Regions from separate parts of the Homo sapiens genome. Here region 2 is linked to region 1. The links come from fine-mapping of genetic effects on gene expression. Tissue or cell type: whole blood. Region 1 holds a variant in brackets; the other region holds the start of a gene. All regions are shown on one strand. Distances are from middle to middle.

Evidence for each region. PIP is the estimated chance that this variant, and not a neighbour inherited with it, causes the effect.
Region 2: PLCH2 starts here. The variant in region 1 is fine-mapped to the expression of PLCH2 in whole blood (TOPMed, PIP above 0.99).

The regions. Positions count from the first base shown.
Region 1 is chr1:2,433,211-2,436,046 of GRCh38, reverse strand. It overlaps a transcript of PLCH2 not described here. Among named protein-coding and RNA genes, the nearest start is that of PEX10, 22 kb to the right of the region's middle. The variant A/T (reference allele first, on the strand shown) is at 1,601.
Region 2 is chr1:2,474,809-2,477,476 of GRCh38, reverse strand. It overlaps PLCH2 (phospholipase C eta 2), which reads right to left and starts at 1,188. Exons shown (of 22, transcript NM_014638.4): 1 at 765-1,188. The coding sequence starts at 888.

The DNA of each region.
Region 1 (2,836 bases):
GGAAGGGAGGAGGGGAGGAGGGAGGAGAGAGGAGGGAAGCGGGAGGAAGGGAGGAGGGGAGAAGGGAGGAGGGAAGAAGGGAGGAGGGAGGAGGAGAGGAGGGAGGAAGGGAGGAGGGGCCCTCACTCTTTTCCTGGCCAGAGGGAGAGAGATGATGAGAGCCCAAGTCTCAGCAGCAAATTCAGCCCCACACTGGACAGACCAGGTGTTCCCAGCTGAGCCCCCCAGGTGTGGGGGCTCACTCCAGACTGAGCTGAGCCTCCCATCGCAGGGGCTCTGGACCCCAGCTGCCCACAGTTCATCATCTTCTCCACCCTGGCTGTACTCCACAGCCATCAAAGGACCCTGGAAACCCAGTCTCCCCTCCTGGAGATCACAACAGGCCAGGCGTGCTGTGGGCTCTGAGAGCCGTGTCACGCTGCACTCGGGCCCTGCCAGCCAGCAACTATTCCCACCTCTGTCCTCCCCAGGGACCCCATTGAGGTCCCTGGCCCCTTCCCCAGTCCCTGCAAAGAGAGGCCCCTGCGCCTGCTATCCCCGCCTCACTAACACATGCCTCCAGCCTCCAGCCTCCAGCCTCCAGCCTCCAGCCATTTGGAACCTAAAACAGCTTTGCTGGTGCCCTCTGACTACCCAGGGTGGTGTGAGAGCGCTGGTCAGCCCAGAGCCCGGGGACCCCTGGGCGTGAGCCTCACTTCCCTATCCTCTCTGAGGAAACACCCCGAGCCCAGGTGCCCTCCCTGCAAGAGGCAGCAACCGGGCCCCACCCCCCACAGCCCCTGCCCGGCCTCTGGCCTGCTCACTGTCCGCAGGTGACAGGGGTTCCTGGAGGAAAGGTCCTCACCCCCGGGACCATCTTCCACATGCTCTCCTTCGTCCTGGTGAGCTCCACTCCTCCTCCCAGCAGAGCTCCTGGACTGCCCACTTCTCTGCAGCCCAGGCAGGACCATCCAGGTCAGTGCACCTGCCTCCTGCTGCTGACAAAGCCAAGTCCCTGCGCCCCGGTGTTCTGCCCGGCCTGCTGCATGCTGAGGCTCGCAGGCCACGGACTTCTCAGAACAAATCCCCCCTGAGAAGCCAGCTCTGGGCCACGGGGACACACTTCTAGGGGCCTGCCTTCCCGTGCGGGCTCAGCTCTCCTGGGCAGCCTGGGTACAGCATGGGCGCCCGAGGACATACGCAACCCACAGCTGATTCTGCCCGGGGGTGGTTTCCACGGGGAGCCTCGATTTCCAGGTGAAGCACATCATCAGTGCACGTGGCACCAGGGAGAGGAGCTTGCATGGCCCCAGAGTGGGGACACAACCGGCGAGGCTCTCCCCACTTTTAGTGCGGCTGGCAGCCCGGGCAGCCTGGGGCTCCTCTGCTGGCTGTGGGGGGAAGGGGGTTGCTGGAAGCCAGGCCCTTGCCACACTTGGCCCTTCCGGGACTGGAGGGTCCCACGGCCCAGTGTCCAGGGTTCTGCATCTCAAAGGAGAGTCAGGGCCCCCGAGGCCAGTGACAGAGCTTGTGCCGCCCGCACCTGGCGGCAGCTGCTTTGTCTACAAAGGCAGTGTTTAATTTTGCTTTCCACAACCAGACTGCATTCTGGATACAGCTG[A/T]GGAGACAGATAAGGAACCTGTGCGTGGGGGAAATACGCCCCTGCCAGAGGCCCTGTGGGTGCCCGGGAGAGAAGGGGCCCCACGGCACAAGGAGCTGGGGCCACCTTCCCAGGTTGTAAACGGCTGTGAAGGTGAGTCCGTGTGTCCTGCCTCCTTCTAGAAAAGCCTCTGACCTGGCTTCAGGCAGGGACTGACCTGGGGAAGGCGCGGTGCCCCCTGCCCAGGCGCGGCCCCCGCCGGCCCCTGGCACACCCAGCCACCTCCCTTGGTTGCTCAGTAAGAAGCTGAAGGTGGGAGCCTCAAAGAGCTCGGTGCACATACATCAAACGCCACCCAGGGAGACCCGCAGCCTCCAAGGAAACAACGGGAGACCCGCCACGAAGCCGGACGCGCGATGCCTGTGAAGGAACCTCCTGCGATGTTGATGGCAGCAGCTCGTCGAGTTTCCTGGGTGCCCGGGGAGACTGCACTGCTGCCCTTCGGAGCATGAGGCAGACACTCAAAGCCGGGCTCCAGGGGAAAATTCAAACGTTTGAAGGGACCAAACGGCCAACATCACCCGGGACCCCCAGTGTGGGCACATCCGTGGAGGGAGTCGATGGCTCTGAGGGGGTTTGGGGAGCCGGCAGGGGCTCTGCCTAACCCAGGCACCCAAAGCCACGAAGGAGCGGGGAGAGGTGGATGGCAATGGCTGGTCTGATTTTCTCCCTTGTCTTTTTCTGTATTTTCCAAAGCATCTCCTCTGAGTGAGTCTTGCTTTCATGATCAGGGAAAAAAGAAACATACAAGAGCCGCCAACATAAGAGCCGGTGTAGAGTCCGAAGGAAAACGCAGATCTGAGTGCACTTTGAAGTCAGAAAGCCCCCGGGGAGGCTCCTGCTGTGCGGACACACCGTTCCCACCTGTGCCAGCCTCAAGGCACCGAGACTGAGCCGCTCCAGCTCCAGCTCAGTGAGAATGGCGGGGACACATACTCCAGCAGCCCTGAACCCCAAGAGCCACAGCCTCCCGCTGGAGTACTCCAGGGGACAGGAGCACACCGGCCCGGATGGGCCTCAGCAGCCCCCGGCCAAGTAGGGCCATGCTGCCAGCCTCATCCACATGGAGATGCCAGGGAGGCCAGGCCACCAGCAGCCCCAGGTGCACATGCAGTCAGCCCCACAAAACCTGCCTGCCTCTGCTCCCAGCACCACCACCCACACCACAGCACACTGGTCCTCCCCGGACACCTGAGC
Region 2 (2,668 bases), 42 kb before region 1:
CTGAGGGACCCTGGCGGGGGCGTTGTAGAGGACCAAGGGCAGTACTGGCCGGGCCTTCTTGGGGAAGCTACTACGTGATCACGAGCAGAGGGGAATTGAAGGGATGGAAGCCATGGCATGGGGGGCTGGGCTCTCCGGGGCACATGGGAGGTGAAGACGCAGGTATGGCTGCAGGGATTTAGGAGAGGGGTGAGGCAGGACACAGGGGCAGGGGGCGGGCAGAGGCCTGCAACAGGGCAGCCTGGACAGGACCCTGTCTGCCGCTGGAACAGAGAGCTGGCAGGCCAGCCCGGACCGGGGCCCTCCACAGGCCACCACAAGACACACACTCCACCCTCCCAGCCATACCCAGCCAGTCTCCTCTGCAGAGTCTCCTAACGGCAAAGGCCCTCATGTCCGGCACCAGGATGCCAGCCCAGCCGCCTGGGCTGCAAGCACCACTGACCCCCAGAGCACAAGGCACCCCTTCAATGAGAGCATTGGAGCCACCTGAGATCCCCCCTCGCCCCCTTGGGTTCAGCCCCCAGGCCCTGCAGGTGCCTGGGAGACCGAGGTGTGCTGAGCACGCCTCTGAGCGGCTGAGGGGCAGGGCCAGCCGACGCTGCTGGACCCACATGATCCCTAGAGCACCCGGGGGACAGGGGAGGCGAGTGCAGGATGGGATGGAGGCCCAGGCTTCCCCCACCTCCAGGAACAGCCCCCACCCACCAGTCACCTGGCCAGGGCCAGCACTCAGCCCAGGCCACTCGCCTGCCCCTTCTTACCCAGGGGGCCGAGCTGCCACTCTGAAGACAGCACCACACTCCCTCCAACCCAGAGGAGTACCTCCGCCAGCCAGGCCACCGTTCCCTTGGTCCGGCTGTCGGGGGAGGGCCATGGACCAGACATGGCCTGACGACAGCCGGGCCTGCTTCACGGAGGCCACAGAGGCCCACCGGCCTTCGGGCAGCGGAGGTCAGGCAGTGGCAGCGCTGGCGACAGGACCTCCGTGGGGCCTTCTCTCCTCTGCCTCTTCCTCCTCCTCCTCAGGGCCCTCCGAAGCCCCCACAGGGCTGTGCCCAGGCCCGGCTGGCATTGGCCTGACCGTCACCTGCTGTCCTGATGGCCCCCAGGCCAGCCTATCCACCCTCCAGGGCCACCAAGGAATCCCTGACGCAGCCGCCTCCCAAGGCTGGGGGAGCAAAGGACCTCAGCCCCGCCCAGCCCCAGGCCCAATCCCTGTGCTAATCCCAGCTCCAGCCCAGCTGGTGGAGGATTTAGGCCGAGGGAACTCCCAGCTGGGGATGGGAGGGCACTGGGGAGGCAACAGAGTTTCCCAAGGCCCCAGGCCACCAGACCCAGGTCAGGGCTGCGGGACAAGAGCAGGACCAACGGGAGGGCCCTCCTGGGACCCAGAGAACGCAACCGGAAGGCCTGCAGGGTACTGTCCTCCGAGGACCCTGTGTGGGGTGGGCCTCCCCGCTGTGCGCCCACCACAGATGCCGAGGCTGGGCCTGGAGTGGTCCCTGCCCTCACCCCGCATCCCTACTTATGAGGACCTCTGAGTGGATCCCCAAAGTCCAGAGGCAGGTGGCCCAGAGCAGGGGCAGAAGCTCACCTCATCCCCGCAGCGCCCAGCCCCTGTGGCTGGAGAGGGGAGCCGAGCCGGATCCCTTACAGCGACAACTCCCAGCCCAGGCCCAGGATGTGGGTCCCTGAGCCTGGGTTGGGCTCTCCATGTCTCCCTCATGCAGCTGCAGCCCCAGCCTGACCTTTCTCCACGGTCACCGAGCTGTGGCGGAGGAGGTGGCCCCATGCCCAGGGCACGTTTGTCCCCACATTCTGCCCTGCAGGGATGACAGCCATCTGACCTGGACAGGGGCCTCGCCCAAGGAGGACCCACCCCACCGTCTCAGCTCCCACTGAGGAAAGGACTCCAGGTCCCACTGCCACCAGGACCACACAGCCCACCCTGTGTACTGGCCCCGCACTACAGGACAGCACAGGCTCTCCCATCCCCAAGTCCAGGCCGGGACACCAGGGGCAGCTGTGGGAATGGGAGGTGGGCAGACCCCGGCTGAACACCAGCCACCTGTGTCCTGGCCATGCCCATGCTTCGTGACCACACTGGGGAGAACCCCGCCCTTCTTCCCACCCACTGCCCAGGCTCTACTGGCTCCAGCAACAAGGACTGGAAGGTTCCGGGCAGCTGCTCGCCTCCCCCCATACCAGGGGAGGAGTTTGGCCTGCAGAGCCCAGGACAGGGAGGTGCCAGGGCTGGGCATCCTGGCAGAGCCCCGGGGCCAAGGTCAGGCGTGGGAGGTGGCAGTCCCTGAGGAGATGGCCATGCGTCTCCAGCTGACCACTGACAACCAGGGCCACACCCAGCCAGATCAGATGCAGTCAGCACAGAGCCAACCCAGGCCCCCACCAGGGGCCCCGTCACAGGCTCTGCTGCTCTCGGCGGAAGCAGGTCAGCAGGCGTTTCTGGGCTCTGCCGTGGAATTAGATTAGGGAGCCATGAGCTGCAGGGAGAGGAGAGGGGCTGGAGTCCCGGGCGTCCTCAGGAAGACAGGGCCTCGGGGAAGGCCACCGTGTAAGGGGCAGCGCAGGGGCCAGGAGGTGGCCTGAGGGCCTGGAGACAGACCAGACGGCCATAGCCCTGGCCCAGGGCCCCTGCCCACCTCAT